Homo sapiens: one gene and its partners. The protein of the gene in region 1 purifies or fractionates together with the protein of each later gene. This does not show direct contact. Each region holds a gene or a part of one and is shown on either strand. Other genes may lie near its edges.

Region 1 (3,723 bases):
AGTTTCATATCCCGGGAAGCCACTTTCTAGTGTATATGGGAGCAAGATTGCCTAAAATGTGTTAACACATGCTGCTCATGGTCTAGAGGATGATTCTAGGTGATACACAGGTCAACATTTTTTGTTTCAGTAGCCAGCTATTTCACAGGTATTATTGCTTACAATTGGAAAAAATTTTTTTGAGTTAACATTAAAGATGTTAGTTGAATATGGCAAAAAATGTGAAAATGATATGTAATGGATTGAAGTTTGGGAAACATTAGAAGACAGAGAAGAAAGAGAGAAGAAAAAGAGGAAAGGATCAGACAAATAAAGATAATGATAACTTCATTAAGATAAAATGAAATCATAAAGGCAAAAAATCCATATACTGGAAACATAAAAATTACCTTAGCCGTTGTTGCGCAGGTTGCAGCTCTGACCTGAGACATTTTGGGAGGCACTTTTCAGGGGCACTCCGCATTCTGAAAATGTAGAGAATTTTCCAAATAAGAAAATTTGCCTTAACGAGAATTCAGGGAAAGCCACTGACAAGCTACAGACTTCCAGCTAAGTCATGTTAGTTAGGATGATGCTTGGGAGCATCAGTGATGCACTTTCAACATCAATTAGAAATCTGGGAGGCAAATGGAATGCTCGATAGTATTCATATCTTGTTTAGTTTGGCAAAAGAATGAAAGTTTCAATATTTTGTTGAAAAATCGTTTCATAATTTGGAAAGTGCCTAGCACAATGCCTGGCTCAAAGTGAGTTCTCAATGGCTGATCACTACCACTATTGTAATTTATGTCATTAATCTTCCTGGTTCTTCCCAGCGTGGGATCAGAAGGGGGAGAGAATACTTGGGCACATGGAAATAGAAGGATGTATGAGAACCAGGCTGGTCATGTAGCTTGATGCCTTTTCTTCCTGTCCTGGGCAAGGAATGGCTACAAGAGGTTACTATCAAGAGTTCCAAAGTAAGGAGAGATGGACTCCTGCCATCTGTAAAGAACTGGATATTTTGAATGTTTAATAAAACTCTTTTTAAGATAAACTTTTATATTGACTGCAAAAAATAAAAAGGAAGCTGCATAAGGCTTGATAGGGCATAATTTTTTTCACTATTCTATGGGTAAAGCCATAATAAAATAAACAACTTGATTATATTGACAAAAAGTGTTTATAAAGATATATTTAATGCCATGAAAAAATTTCAGTAGATAACATTAAGAAAAAAACATAAGAGAGAGCAGCTTTAACATTATATATAGTTTGTGCTTAATTGTATATGCACATACATTATAAACTACTAAGCAAAAAAAAAAAACAGTTAAGCCTATATGATCTTAAGAGGGAAGCATTTTGTCATTCAAGCAGCTGGTAATGGAAAATAAATTAATGTTAATGTTGAAAAAAGAAGCTTGTAGTACTTATATAATTAAACTTTATTTTACTTCATTTTTCAGACATTAGTAAATTTACTTGGTGCCCGAGATACTAATGTTCTATTGGGTTCCCTTCTGGCTCTGGCTAGTTTAGCAGAAAGGTAAGTAGTGTATTCTAATATACTTTCCAGTTCTGCTACTATAGCAATTTAGGTGGTAAGGATGCAAAATAATCAGTTACTTTGTCAACTACTTAATACAATTTCTTGATAAATAAGTGTGAAATAACATGTTGAAGAGAATCCTGGATAGAAGGCATTATTTAAAAATTTAAACTGGAAAGGCAAATTGCAGTTTAAAATTTTCTTTTTATTTCCTGACTGGAAATATTTAGTCTTTTCATCTAACCCTCAGTTACTTCTAATTTCAAAATTACCATAATATTTCTTTGGCAGTTGAATCTTTCTGACCATCTTAATTCATTCTTACCTGTGAATTTTAACATACAGAACGTTTTCAAACATCTGTGGGCTTTGAAAAATTTTCAAGAAGATCTTTCCTCTTATAAATGTCATGATTATTTTAAATGTTTTTATGACAATAAGTGGACCATTGCTTTTCTGTGAATAACATATGATTCCTTTTGTTTTTTGATCTCTTCTCCCAAGATAATATTGGAGCTAGGATATTAAATAAATAAATTTATATGGTTAGGCTTTGTGTCCCCAACCAAATCTCATCTTGAATTGTAATCCCTGTAATCCCCATAATTCCCTCATGTCAAGGGAGAGACCAGGTGGAGGTCATTGAATCATGGGGCCATTTCCTCCATGCTGTTCTCATGATAGTGAGTGAGTTCTCATGAGATCTGATGGTTTTATAAGGGGCTCTTCCCCCTTGGCTCGGCACTTATCCTTCCTGCTGCCTTGTGAAGAAGGTGCCTTGCTTCTCCTTTATCTTCCACCATGACTGTAAGTTTCCTGAGGCCTCCCTAGCCATGCTGAACTGTGAGTCAAGTAAACCTCTTTCCTTTATAAATCACCCAGTCTCAGGCAGTTCTTTATACCAGTTTGAAAAAGGACTAATACATGGATCTAGCAAAATATGCTTTTAGTAATTGCTAATATTTTTCAATTTATAGTCAAGAATGTAGGGAGAAGATAAGTGAACTCAACATTGTAGAAAATCTGTTGATGATTTTACATGAATATGACTTGCTTTCTAAAAGGTAGGATTGCTAACAGTAGAAAAAGACAATGCAGTGCCTTTATTTGACAGATACACTTGTTATTATTTTTATTACGTCATGTTATTTACATTGTAACTGAATATGATGAGTCAGCTTGGCATTTATTTTCTGTTTAAGTTTATATAAAGAAAATAGAGCAAAGAAGTATATCCATTTATGTTTAGTCCTGCATTACTTCTAGATCTGGGCATAGAAGCTGATGAAATAAATTTTTGTGATATCATTTTTAATGTTTTGTTTATTGCATTTATTTATATCCTGCCTTTTTAGGGAAAGAAACTCTGAGGTGGCTCTAGTTTTAGTAATTTCAAATTGTATATTACAATAAGTGATTAGGTTGCTAAAATCCATTTGCATGAAGGCAAGTAAAATAAGATAGCAACTGACTTGTTTTGTGATCACCTGCTATGATAACTCAAAATCTAGAGTAAAATGGATTCATTTTTACTTGAACTGCATATTGTTCTAATAACTATCCAGATAGTTATTAGATTGTACTTAAATAGAGTTGCAATCTATATCATTTGATATTTAGTTGAGTAATTTTCTAAAGAGGCAAAATAGATAAAAAGAAATCTCCAGCAATGGAGCCCTGACACTTAACTCATAGTAAATCCTTTTGGATTCTTCTTCAAAACTCTCATAAAAGAGCATTAAATATAGATAATACTTATAGACTTGGTTATCTGAACAAACAAGGTTCCAAGCTTGGTACCAGGTGTTGAAAACCAAAGATGAATAAGTTATAAATATGTAGTGTAGAAGAGGGTCAAACAGTGCTATAACTGATACGGTAGACAGATGCACAGGGTACTCTGGGAACATGGAGCAGAGACTTCCCAATTAGAATGTGGAGTCATGCAAAGTTTCCTGGAGGAAAGAGAAGATATCTAGGCAGAGAGAGAGAGACAACATAAAAACAGTATGTGCTTGGACATGGAGGCATGAAATTGGGTGTGTTAGAGGAATGTGATGGTTGGGCACAGCAGGACCATAAGAACAAAAGTGCCAGAGAACTAGAACAGATAGTTAATGATAAATTTAAAATGTAGCTAACTTTGATCAGTGTTTTCTATATGCCAAGACCTGCTCTAAGCACTTTGCTTA
Region 2 (3,723 bases), on another chromosome or scaffold:
CCTGGGTTCAAGCGATTCTCCTGCCTCAGCCTCCCCGGTAGCTGGGACTACAGGTGCGCACCACCACGCCTGGCTAATTTTTGGTTTTTGCTTTTTTGCTTTTGTTTTGTTTTTTTTTGGTTTTTTTTTTGAGATGGAGTCTCGCTCTGTTGCCCAGGCTGGAGTGCAGTGGTGCGATCTCAGCTGATTGCAAGCTCCGCCTCCCTGGTTCAAGCAATTCTCCTGCCTCAGCCTCCCGAGTAGTTGGGACTACAGGCACCCGCCACCATGCCTGGCTAATTTTTTGTATTTTTAGTAGAGTCGGGGTTTCACCGTGTTAGCCAGGATTGTCTCGATCTCCTGACCTCGTGATCCACCCGCCTCAGCCTCCAAAAGTGCTGGGATTACAGGCGTGAGCCACCGCGCCTGGCCTTGTGTTTTTAATAGAGACGGGGTTTCACTGTGTTGGCCAGGCTGATCTTGAACTCCTGACCTTGTGATCTGCCTGCCTCGGCCTCACAAAGTGCTGGGGATTATAGGAGTGAGCCATGGTGCCCAGCCTTCTTGAGCTTTTAAGGAGTTGTTTTTACATATACCTTAAGAGGATGATCTTCTGCACAGAACATTTCTTCTATAATAATTTCCATTAACTCTAGATGAATAGTGTAATCTCTTGAGTTGAAAGAGTTTAACTAGCTTCTAGGCCTCTAATTGACTTAAGGTCACTCAGAACAAGGAGATTGATTGCTCTGATGCAACCAGCTGTTTAATTGTGAAGTAGCCTTAAGCTGTTGAATTTAGTCAAATTTGTGAAGTAGCTGACAGATCAAGTTTTGCTAGTAGGCCAGGCGTGGGGACTCATGCTTGTAATCCCAGCACTTTGGGAGGCCAAGGCAGGCAGATCACTTGAGGTCAGGAGTTCAAGACCAGTCTGGCCAACATGGCGAAACCCCATCTCTACAAAATAATACAAAAATTAGCTGAGCGTCCTGGTGCACACCTGTAATCCCAACTACTCAGGAGGCCGAGGTGGGAGAATCGCTTGAACCTAGGAGGCAGAGGTTGCAGTGAGCCAAGATAGCACCACTACACTCCAGCCTGGGTGACAGAGCGAGACTTTGTCTCAAAATAAAATAAACCAAAAATATATGCTTTTTATTTACCAACTTTTTTTTTTTTTTTCCGAGACAGAGTCTCTGTCGCTCAGGCTGCAGTGCAGTGGCACGACCTCGGCTCACTGCAACCTCCGCCTCCCAGGTTCAAGCAATTTTCCTGCCTTGGCCTCCCGAGTAGCTGGGACCACAGGTGCAAGCCACCACGCCCATCTAATTTTTGTATTTTTAGTAGAGATGGGGTTTTGCCTTGTTGGCCAGGATGGTCTTGATCTGTTGACCTCTTGATCCGCGCTCCTCAGCCTCCCAAAGTTCTGGGATTACAGGTGTGAGCCACCGTGCTTGGCCTGTTTATCAACTTTTTAAAAAGTGACATGGGCTGGGTGCAGTGGCTCACGCCTGTAATCTCAGCACTTTGGGAGGCCGAGGAAGGTGGATAACCTGAGGTCAGGAGTTTGAGACCGGCCTGGCCAATATGGTGAAACCCCATCTCTACTAAAGATACAAAAAATTAGGCATGGTGGCGCACGCCTGTAATCCCAGCTACTCAGAAGGCCAAGGCACAAGAATCGCTTGAACCCCGGAGGCGGAGGTTGCAGTGAGCTGAGATCGCACCATTGCACTCCAGCCTGGGCGACAGGGTGAGACTCCGTCTCAAAAAATAAAAGTGGCATGAGTTAATAATGTAAGCTAGGTAACGCTTCTTGGCTACATGGGTGACCTTGTGCAAGTTAACTTAGCTAAGCCCCAATTTCCTCATTTATAAAAAGAGGTATATGTTACCTTACAGGATTATTGTAAGAAAAGAAAAAGTAATACTGCAAATAGATAGCACAGTACCTGTTGCATAGTAAGTGCTTAAAGAATGGAAGCCTCGGCCGGGTGCGGTGGCTCACTCCTGTAATCCCAGAACTTTGAGGGGCCAAGGTGGGCAAATCACCTGAGGTCGGGAGTTCAAGACTAACCTGACCAACATGGTGAAACCCCCCTCTACTAAAAATACAAAATTAAGCCAGGCATGGTGGTGCATCCTGTAATCTCAGCTACTCAGGAGGCTGAGGCAGGAGAATGGCGTGAACCCGGGAGGCGGAGCTTGCAGTGAGCCGAGATCGCGCCACTGTACTCCAGCCTCGGCGACAGAGCGAGAATCCATCTCAAAAAAAAAAAAAAAAAAGAATGGAAGTCTTTGTTATTAAATAACAATTGCATATCACTGTTTGATCCTTGGCACATACAGTGAATTTTCTTTGAAAGATGGAACATAGAATTCATTATTAAAACCTAGTGTCTTTTTTTTTTATTTTTTGAGACGGAGTCTCACTCTGTCGCCCAGGCTGGAGTACAGTGGCACGATCTTGGCTCACTGCAAGCTCCACCTGCCAGATTCACGCCATTCTCCTGCCTCAGCCTCCCGAGTAGCTGGGACTACAGGCGCCCACCACCACGCCTGGCTAATTTTTTGTATTTTTAGTAGAGACGGGGTTTCACCGTGTTAGCCAGGATGGTCTCGATCTCCTGACCTCATGATCTGCCTGCCTCGGCCTCCGAAAGTGCTGGGATTACAGGCATGAGCCACTGTGCCCGACCCCTTTTTTTTTTTTTAGACAGAGTCTCGCTCTGTGGTCCAGGCTGGAGTGCAGTGGCACTATCTCGGCTCACTGCAACCTCCACCTCCCGGGTTCAAGCAATTCTCCTGCCTCAGCCTCCCGAGTAGCTGGGATTATAGGCGCCGGCCCACACCACGCCTGGCTGATTTTTTGTGTTTTTAGAAGAGACCAGGTTTCACCATGTTGGCCAGGCTGGTCTTGAACTCCTGACCTCAAATGATCTGCCAGCCTCAGCCTCCCAAAGTGCTGGCATTATAGGCATGAGCTGCCGTGTCTGGCTGTAAAACCTGCTGTCTTAACACATTGAACGTCAAGTCATGGTGTAGTGAAAAAGATCATGATTAAACATATCAGAGGGCCAGGCATGGTGGCTCACACCTATAATCCCAGCACTTTGGGAGGCCAAGGCAGGCAGATCACCTGAGGTCGGGAGTTTCTAGACTAGCCTAACCAACATGGAGAAACCCCGTCTCTACTAAAAATACAAAATTAGCCGGGTATGGTGGCACATGCCTGTAATCCCAGCTACTCAGGAGGCTGAGGCAGGAGAATCACTTGAACTTGGGAGGCGGAGGTTGCAGTGAGCTAAGATTGCGCCATTGCACTCCAGCCTGGGCAACAAGAGTGAAACTCTGTCTCAGAAAACCATATCAGAGTTCAAACTTGACTTTAGCATTTAACCTAATACTATGAGCCTTAGTTTACTCATCTTTAAAATGGCAGTCATTATATACTTTGTAGTAGTAAGCATTGGGAATAATGTTTTAGTGTACATTAGATAGTATTACAAATCACTTAGTGCCTGGGTCATAATAGTTATTCAGTGAAATGGTTATGATTGTTATTCTCTACTTTCAAACATACTCAATATATAACAACCCATCATATAACTAACCATCAACCCAAATAGCCCCAATTCATGGAGGACAGACGATATCCCTGCCTAATTCTTCTTTGCTGATAATTCCTTTTTTTTTCTCCATCTTGCTCCTCTTCTGTCAGTTGATTTATGAAGACTCTATGGA
Region 3 (3,723 bases), on another chromosome or scaffold:
TCTAAAGACGTTGCAGTGCAAGTGTTGCCTTTGGATAAAATAGAAGAGAACAACAAGCAAAAAGGTAAAAGAATAATATTGATTTTTTTAAATTGTGACAACATATACATAACATAAAGTTTACTACTTTAAAATGTACAGTTCTGTGACAGTAAGTACATTCACATTGTTGTACAATCATCATCACCTTTCATATCCAGAGCTTTGTCATCTCTCCCAACTCTACCCATTAAACACTAACTGCTCATTTTTCATCCCCTCAGCCCTGGGCATCCTACTTTTTGTCTCTATGAATTTGACTACCCTAGGTACGTTATATAAGTAGAATCATATAGTATTTGACCTTTTGTGACTGGCTTATTTCACTTAGCATAATGTTTTAAAGGTTCATCCATGTTGTAGTATGTGTCAGAATTTTCTTCTTAAGGGTAGAATTTATTTTTAAACATTTATTACGTAGTCTTATAGTTTTTATTATTTTCATTTTAAATTAGTTTTTCTTCCCAAATTAAGCTATCACTAGAAGCTATAAAATCCAGAATAAGGTTTGCAATGGTGAAGGTTATCTTGTTATTACCAACCTATTGCAGAGGTTTAGTATTAGATATGTTTATAAATTTTTTTTTTGAGACGGAGTCTCCCTCTGTTGTCCAGGCTGGGGTGCAGTGGCGTAATCTCAGCTCACTGCAACCTCCAGCTCCCGGGTTCAAGCAATTGTCCTGCCTCAGCCTCCTGAGTAGCTGGGATTACAGGTGCACACCACCACACCCAGCTAATTTTTCTATTTTTTTTTTGTAGAGACAGGGTTTCACCATCTTGACCAGACTGGTCTCAAACTCCTGACCTCAAGTGATCTGCCTACCTCAGCCTCCTAAAGTGTTGGGATTACAGGCGTGAGCCACCGTGTCTGGCTCCATATGAATTTTAAAATAGTTTTTTCTAATTCTGTGAAAAATGATGTTGGTAATTGAATAGGAATTGCATTGAATCTGTAGATGGCTTTGGGCAGTATGGTCATTTTAACGATATTGATTTTTCTAATTCATGAGCATGGAATGTTTTCCACTTATTTGTGTCATCTGTGATTTTTTTCATCAGTGTTTTATAGTTCTCCTTGTAGAGATCTTTCACCTTCTTGATTAAATGTATTCCTAGGAATTTTATTTTTTGTGTGCCGCTGTTGTAAATGGCATTGAGTTCTTGATTTCATTCTCAGCTTGAATGTTATTAGTGTATAGAAACGCTACTGATTTTTGTACGTTGATTTTGTATCCTGAAACTTTACTTAAGTCATTTATCAGATCTAGGGGCATTTTGTAGGAATCTTTAGGGTTTTCTAGGTATAGGACCATGTCATCAGTGAACAGAGGTAATTGGACTTCCTTTTACTTTTTGGATGCCTTTTCTTTCTTTCTCTGTCTGATTGCTCTGGCTGGGACTTCCACTACTGTATTGAAAAGAGTGGTAAGAGTGGGCATCCTTGTCTTGTTCTAGTTCTTAGGGGGAATGTGTTCAACTTTTGCCCGTTCAGTATGATGTTGGCTGTGGGTTTGGGATTATGAGGATTATATTATTACTTAATCACTTAATTTGTTCCTTGTCCTTTTCGATCGTGGAATGCTATGGCTGAGTTCCTAAACATTCTTTTAGTTAAAAAAGATTTTTTTAGTAGCTTATTAAAGTTTAATAAATATTCAGGAATTTAATATATATTTTTGTGTCTTGATTTTGCAGCAAATGACATCTTCATTTCTCAGTATACAATGGGACAGAAAGATGCTCTAAGAACAGTTTTAAAGCAAAAGTAAGTTTCATTTACAGAAAATAATTGGACCATTTCTTATGTAAATCAGCTTCATTTGTACTTTGGACATATGAAAAACCTTTTCACTATGTGAAATATATATTGTGTGATATGTATAAAGCATTTCTCATGGTGCTAGACACGTATAAAATACTCAGTAGCAGTTAGCAGTTATTATTATGGAAGTGCTATAGTATTAACTCATTTAACACACTTATAAAATAGATTTACTATCCCAATTTTATAGAATCCCCATTTTCTTTTATTTATTTATTTATTTAGAGATGGAGTCTCGCGTCGCCCAGGCTGGAGTGCAGTGGCACAATCTCGGCTCACTGCAACCTCTGCCTCCCAGGTTCAAGCAATCTCCTGCCTCAGTCTCCCAAGTAGCTGGGATTACAGGCACCTGCCATCATGCCCAGCTAATTTTTGTATATTTGTAGAGATGGGGTTTCACTATGTTGGCCAGGCTGGTCTTGAACTCCTGGCCTCAGGTGATCTACCTGCTTCGGCCCTGCAAAGTGCTGGGGTTACAGGCGTGAGCCAGTGCGCCCTGTGGTTAATTTAATTTTGCGTTAGAATCTAAGGAAGAGCCACACTTTACATTTGAATGATATGTCTCTTAAGTTTGTTTTTGTTTTTGTTTTTTTTAAGACAGGGTCTCGCTCTGTTGCCTAGGCTGGACTGCAACCTCCACCTCCTGGGTTCAAACAATTCTCCTGCCTCAGCCTCCTGAGTAGCTGGGATTACAGGCACACACTACCACGCCTGGCTATTATTTGTATTTTTAGTAGAGATGAGGTTTCACCATGTTGGTTAGGCTGGTCTCAAACTCCTGACCTCAGGTGATCCGCCCACCTTGGTCTCCCACAGTGCTGGGATTACAGGTGTGAGCCACCATGATCAGCCTTCAGTTTGTTTTAATCTACAGATTTACCCTTATTTCGTTTTTCTTATAATTTGTTTGTCTTAAGAAATTTTCTACCTTCTGGATTTTGCTGAATGTATCCTTTTGTTGTCTTTAACATGTTTCTTTCAACCTTGAATTTCTGTCAAGTGGCAAGAATGCTTGATAGGTGATATTATATACTTCCTGTGTAATACATCGGGATACATAGATATCTGATTTTATCTCTTATTGTGAAATTAGGATTGATCTGTTAATACACCACCTTTTTGTATCAAATTACAGCATATGGAAATTTGAGGACAAAGAGTCTAAACAGTCAATTTTAGAAATTTAGCAGGAAAATAATTTCTTATAAAAGCTGAAGGAAGCTGGGCATGGTGGCTCATGCCTGTAGTCCTAGCACTTTGGGAGTCCAAGACAGGAGGATCACTTGAGCCCAAGAGTTTGAGACCAGTCTGGGCAATATAGCTAATTTTTTTAAATTAGCCAGATATGGTGGTGTGTGCCTGTAGTCCCAGGTACTTGGGAGGCTGAGGTGGAAGGATCACTTGGGCCTAGGAGTTTGAGGATGCCATGAGCCATGTTCATGCCACTGCACTCCAGCCTGGGTGACAGAATGAGACCCCGTCTCATCAGAAAAATAGGGAGACAGACAGACAGACAGATGCTGAATGATAGGAAAAAAGCAGGGAAAGCAGAAGAAATCAAGTATACCAGATAAAAGAAAACATAAACACAGTAGAATGTTTTCAACTAGTTCTAGAAGTACGTCAGTGTAATAAGCAAATCTTGGACAAGTCTAAGTCAGAAAACTGGTGAGAGAATGCATGTTAGAAGTAAAAAGAGGACATAATGATAGACTTAGAAGGTATTAAGAATACAGTGTATTAAGAATACTGTGTACATGAATGCTACAAATTAAGAAATCTAGATGAAAGAAATAACTCACCAAAAATAACCATATAACTAAGAAGATTTTAATAGGCCAGTTACTGGGAAATAAATTTAA
Region 4 (4,368 bases), on another chromosome or scaffold:
TGAGAACTGAAGAACAAGTTCTGTGCACTGGACAATAACTTTTTATTTTTTATAGTAAGAAGTCGATGTAATTAACATTCCATTTTAAATGAATTCAAGTATATCAACATAAACATATGCCAAGACATAGCTTTGATGTCAAATACCATACGTTCTGGTTCACACATTGTTCATATATTGACCCAAAAAACTGAAATACGATCCAATGGCAGATCCGCCTGCAAGGAAGGTGATTCAGTTTTCACTGATTAAGCTTTATGTTCATCAGATTAATTGCTCGCAATAGAGGACACCCTACAAAAAATTATTCTCCTTATCCTTCGTCTTGTCTTTGCAAACAGGACTTTCAGACACAGAACGCCCCAGAAGTATTTCGAAACAGTTACCTCTCCTAAGAGGAGCTGCTGAAAGAATTTGTTACTAAACATGCTTCGTGTATATTCTGGAGCAAGCTCTCACGCCTAACAGAAACAAGAGCTACTTGATGTGAGACACTTTGTCACTTAAGTGTGATAATTGCCACAACTTCGGAGTCCGAGTAACTTGGAAGACAGCCCCTCTGGGGGATGGCACACTTTTCTCTCTGCAGTCATTTCGGCTTCACAAAATACCTCAACGGTAGAGAACACACTGGGCCCACCCCTTTCCAGGAGCAGCCGGTATAGAAGAAATCCGCGGAGCACAGAGGGTTGGGGAGCGGAGGCCCCACCAGGAGAAGGGTCAGCCGAACCAGGGATCGCCTGAGACCAACTTGGGTCCCTCCAGGGGACACCATGGGAGGAGACCGTGGGAGAAGAGTCTAACCTGAGAGGCCGCGGACGTTTGCTACAGCGGGAACCAGCTTGGGGGCTGAGAGCAGCCAAGGCATTACGGCCTAACTCACGCGTCGGGAAGAGAAAGAGGGTAACGACGGGGAACGCAACCGCCTGCAGGGCCGCGTCGCCAGGAAACCGGGCCAGCCGCACCTCCCCTTCCGGCGGAGGCGGCTCGCGGGCCTTCCTTGCGCGGCGGCGCAGGTTGTGACGTCATGCCCCGAGCTGGGACCGACCCTCCGGCTCCACGCCCTTTTTTTTTTTTTTTTTTAGGTCCCGGGCGTTGAGCTCTACTCAGTGCACGCAGCCACACAATATGCTCTTGGACGTCGCCCCCTGGAGGGGATGTTATCTCCCGCCTCCTTGAAGTCGCCCATTTCTGGGGTTGCCCCATCCAGGGAGCTGGTTCCTAGTTAAGAATATGAGAATGTATGCGCAGGGAGGCAGGCAACAGCACGAACAGCCACGCTTCTAGAAGATTCTAGGGAGCGCGCAGGAGCAGCGCAGAGGGAGTAGGAATGAGCAGGCGGAGGACCCGAGGTCACGAGACCGTTGGGTGGGAGGAGCCAGCGGCCGGGGAGGTTCTAGTCTGTTCTGTCTTGCGGCAGCCGCCCCCTTCTGCGCGGTCACGCCGAGCCAGCGCCTGGGCCTGGAACCGGGCCGTAGCCCCCCCAGTTTCGCCCACCACCTCCCTACCATGGACCCCCGCAAAGTGAACGAGCTTCGGGCCTTTGTGAAAATGTGTAAGCAGGATCCGAGCGTTCTGCACACCGAGGAAATGCGCTTCCTGAGGGAGTGGGTGGAGAGGTGAGACCCAGGCCTGAGGACCGTTGGGGGCGGGGGAAGCACGGCCCCAGGGGGGAGCCAGGCTGGACCTGGCTCGGTCCGGCGGGCGAGGCGGGGTCGCTGCCCCTTCTTTGCCCGGGAAAGGGAGGCAACTTCGAGGGGTCATGGAAGATCGCGAGCCTTGGGTAGTACAGGAGCCGCGGGGAGCAGGAGGCAGAGCTGGGTTCCTCGCACCCTGAGGTTGCCCAGGGGTGTATCTTGGGCGAAATACAAAAACAGGACTGCGGATGCGTGGACACTGGAGACGCGAGGAGTGAAAACTGCAAGACTTAGATTTTGCGTGGGGTTGTTTTTCTTTCAGTCTTGTGTGCCCTGCTCAGGTCTCATTGGTACATAGCAGTTCCTTTACGCACTATTCCTTTACGTCGTGTTATAATAATATAACACTAGTAAGTTAAAAGTTACAAAACTAGTAAGAATAAAAATGATAACTGTAAAAATGATTGTTTTTACCTTACAGCGTTTGTAGCTGCGTAGGATTAATTATCTTGAGAATCACTTATTATACCTCCGTTACTTGGCAGTGTTATCACTCCAAACACGTCTGAGAAAAATAATTTCTTAAGGCCTGGCATGTTTCCAGGATATAATCTTGTTGTCTTTAACTGTAGAGTACTTCGCTACGTGCAAGGAGTTAATTGACAAGGCATTGTGCCTGGTGCTAGGAAACAGTATAAGTACTGTCTATTTAGACGAATAAATAGAAAAGTTCGTTTTGATATTTACTATATAATAGTAATTAGCATTTTATGTGTTGAAGGAGCACCGAAGAGAAAAAGTGACAGGGAAGTCTTCCCTAAGATGACTTTTTAAAAAATTATTACTAATGGGGAACTGAAAAGATGACATACAAATTGCACTAAACAGGGATAAATAGCAACTATGCAGACCATTGCGACTCCTAAGAGGTGCTGCTGTGAACGTTATGTGTTTAGTGACTTTTGTCTTTTAGAGACAGGGTTTGGCTGTATTGTCCAGGCCGCATACAGTGGCGGGATCACTGCAGCCTCCAATTCCTGGGCACAAGCGATCCTCCTGCATCAGTCTCCCAGGTGGCTAGCAGTGCGGGATCGAGCCACCATACTTGGCTAATTTAATTTTTTTGTAGAGATGGGGGTCCCATTAAGTTGCCCAGGCTTGTCTTGAACTCCTGGCCTCAAGGGACTCCCCCGCCTCCCAAAGTGGTGGTATTACAGGCGTGAGCCACTTCACCCAGCGTGATATTTTTGTGTGGGAAGATGAGCTCATGATTACCAAATAGCTCAAAGAATATTTCTTAACAACAATCTGGTTCTAAGGAAAAAACTCGTTACAATCTGTCAGCGTTGTATGTTGTATTTTTTTCCTCTAAGAAGTTTTTCAATTTTTAGCTCCCCACCAATTGTCTAACTACTGGAAGACTTACTTATATGTGAAATTCTGAGACCATTTAATATTACTATGTTAATAGTAACTTTATGAATATTGGTAAGAAGTCTATTTTGCAAACTCCTCAACCGGGAAATGTCAGGATTAGGAATTGAGGGCTAGGTTTTAGTCGTTTTCTCTATTGAACAGCTTGATGATCCAAAAGCCTTAAGATATTTGTATGCTTTTATCCTAATTATAGGAAAGAACCTGCAGTTAATAAATTCTTTCTAAAATTCCAGGTAACGTAGACAAGTATCACAGGAAGAAAATAGCCGGCTCCAAGAGCTGGCTCCACTTTACATTAAGTGGATACAATGTTTTTGTTTCATTCTTACTAGTGAGGAAGAGGAGACACAGAAGAACAAATTAAAAGCATGTGTAAGAACAGTGTCCTCCTGACTTGTGCTGGAGTGATTGTGCCTATGTAGAGAATTCCACTTTAAGGTTTGCAAAATATTTGTCAGGCACTACTATCTCCCAAACAAAAACAAGAAATAGTCATATACCTTATTTTAACATAGGTAATTCCAGTTTTTCTTTCTGATTCCACTTACATTCTTTAGCCATCCTGAGTTGGCTGAAGTATGGGGTGAAGCATCATGGCATATGTAGGGACTTTATTCTGAACTTAAATTGAGATATTTAATATAGAAGCTTTTTCTCTTTATTTCTGTATTTAAACTAAGATTTTTATAAACTCTGAGGCCTTTGCGTTTGTGTCAGTTTCTCTCTCTGCCTTCATCAGTCTGCAGTTCGAGATTGTGGCAGATGGGGCTGAATGTGGAGACTTCTAGGTCCAGACGTCTTCCTAGGCCTGATGCTACTGTTAGGGTTACTCAAGTTGAAAACATGTGTTTCTCACAGGCTTAGCTGTTGAAGAACAGTACATCTGCCTATTTGCTATAATTGCTAGCATTGTTTATAGCTTAGTTTTATTTGATATAAGGATTTATTAGTTTAACCTTTTAAATTGCACAAAGAGAAATACTAAAAGTCTTTCTGAACTAGTTGTCAGTGAGGATCCAGGAGACTGTTCTTTTCAAGAACTGTGTTTTGAGATATTTTTGTTTTTCCCTTTTTAGAGACAGAAGCATTCTCCCACTCTATTTTCTCCCGTTTAACAATTTAGTATCTTGTATGTGGTTTCATGGCTTTACTTGATGGTAATTAAGATCGAAGAGAGTGTCTTTGTTTTCTACTCCCTAGTACAGTACGTGGCACATGGCTTTTCCTAAATGTTGTAAAGGAAATGAACAGAATGCATTTCTACCCTCAATATAGAATTTAGAGTGTAGCAACC

What was found. The genes of interacting proteins can lie anywhere in the genome.
Region 2: the proteins of NEK10 (region 1) and CS purify together in Homo sapiens (co-immunoprecipitation; one large-scale study listed by IntAct). This does not show direct contact.
Region 3: the proteins of NEK10 (region 1) and KIAA0586 purify together in Homo sapiens (affinity purification with mass spectrometry; one large-scale study listed by BioGRID and IntAct). This does not show direct contact.
Region 4: the proteins of NEK10 (region 1) and ST13 purify together in Homo sapiens (co-immunoprecipitation; one large-scale study listed by IntAct). This does not show direct contact.

Annotation. Positions count from the first base shown.
Region 1 is NC_000003.12:27,306,731-27,310,453, reverse strand, and holds part of NEK10 (serine/threonine-protein kinase Nek10), read left to right. Parts: intron 1-1,448; coding exon 1,449-1,528; intron 1,529-2,508; coding exon 2,509-2,595; intron 2,596-3,723. UniProt on the Homo sapiens protein: Plays a role in the cellular response to UV irradiation. Mediates G2/M cell cycle arrest, MEK autoactivation and ERK1/2-signaling pathway activation in response to UV irradiation.
Region 2 is NC_000012.12:56,276,173-56,279,895, reverse strand, and holds part of CS (citrate synthase, mitochondrial precursor), read left to right. Parts: intron 1-3,700; coding exon 3,701-3,723. UniProt on the Homo sapiens protein: Key enzyme of the Krebs tricarboxylic acid cycle which catalyzes the synthesis of citrate from acetyl coenzyme A and oxaloacetate.
Region 3 is NC_000014.9:58,430,654-58,434,376, forward strand, and holds part of KIAA0586 (protein TALPID3), read left to right. Parts: coding exon 1-64; intron 65-1,734; coding exon 1,735-1,804; intron 1,805-3,723. UniProt on the Homo sapiens protein: Required for ciliogenesis and sonic hedgehog/SHH signaling. Required for the centrosomal recruitment of RAB8A and for the targeting of centriole satellite proteins to centrosomes such as of PCM1.
Region 4 is NC_000022.11:40,853,682-40,858,049, reverse strand, and holds the start of ST13 (hsc70-interacting protein), read left to right. Parts: upstream 1-1,410; 5' UTR 1,411-1,509; coding exon 1,510-1,619; intron 1,620-4,368. Other genes in the region: XPNPEP3 (xaa-Pro aminopeptidase 3), read right to left, coding at 805-868. UniProt on the Homo sapiens protein: One HIP oligomer binds the ATPase domains of at least two HSC70 molecules dependent on activation of the HSC70 ATPase by HSP40. Stabilizes the ADP state of HSC70 that has a high affinity for substrate protein.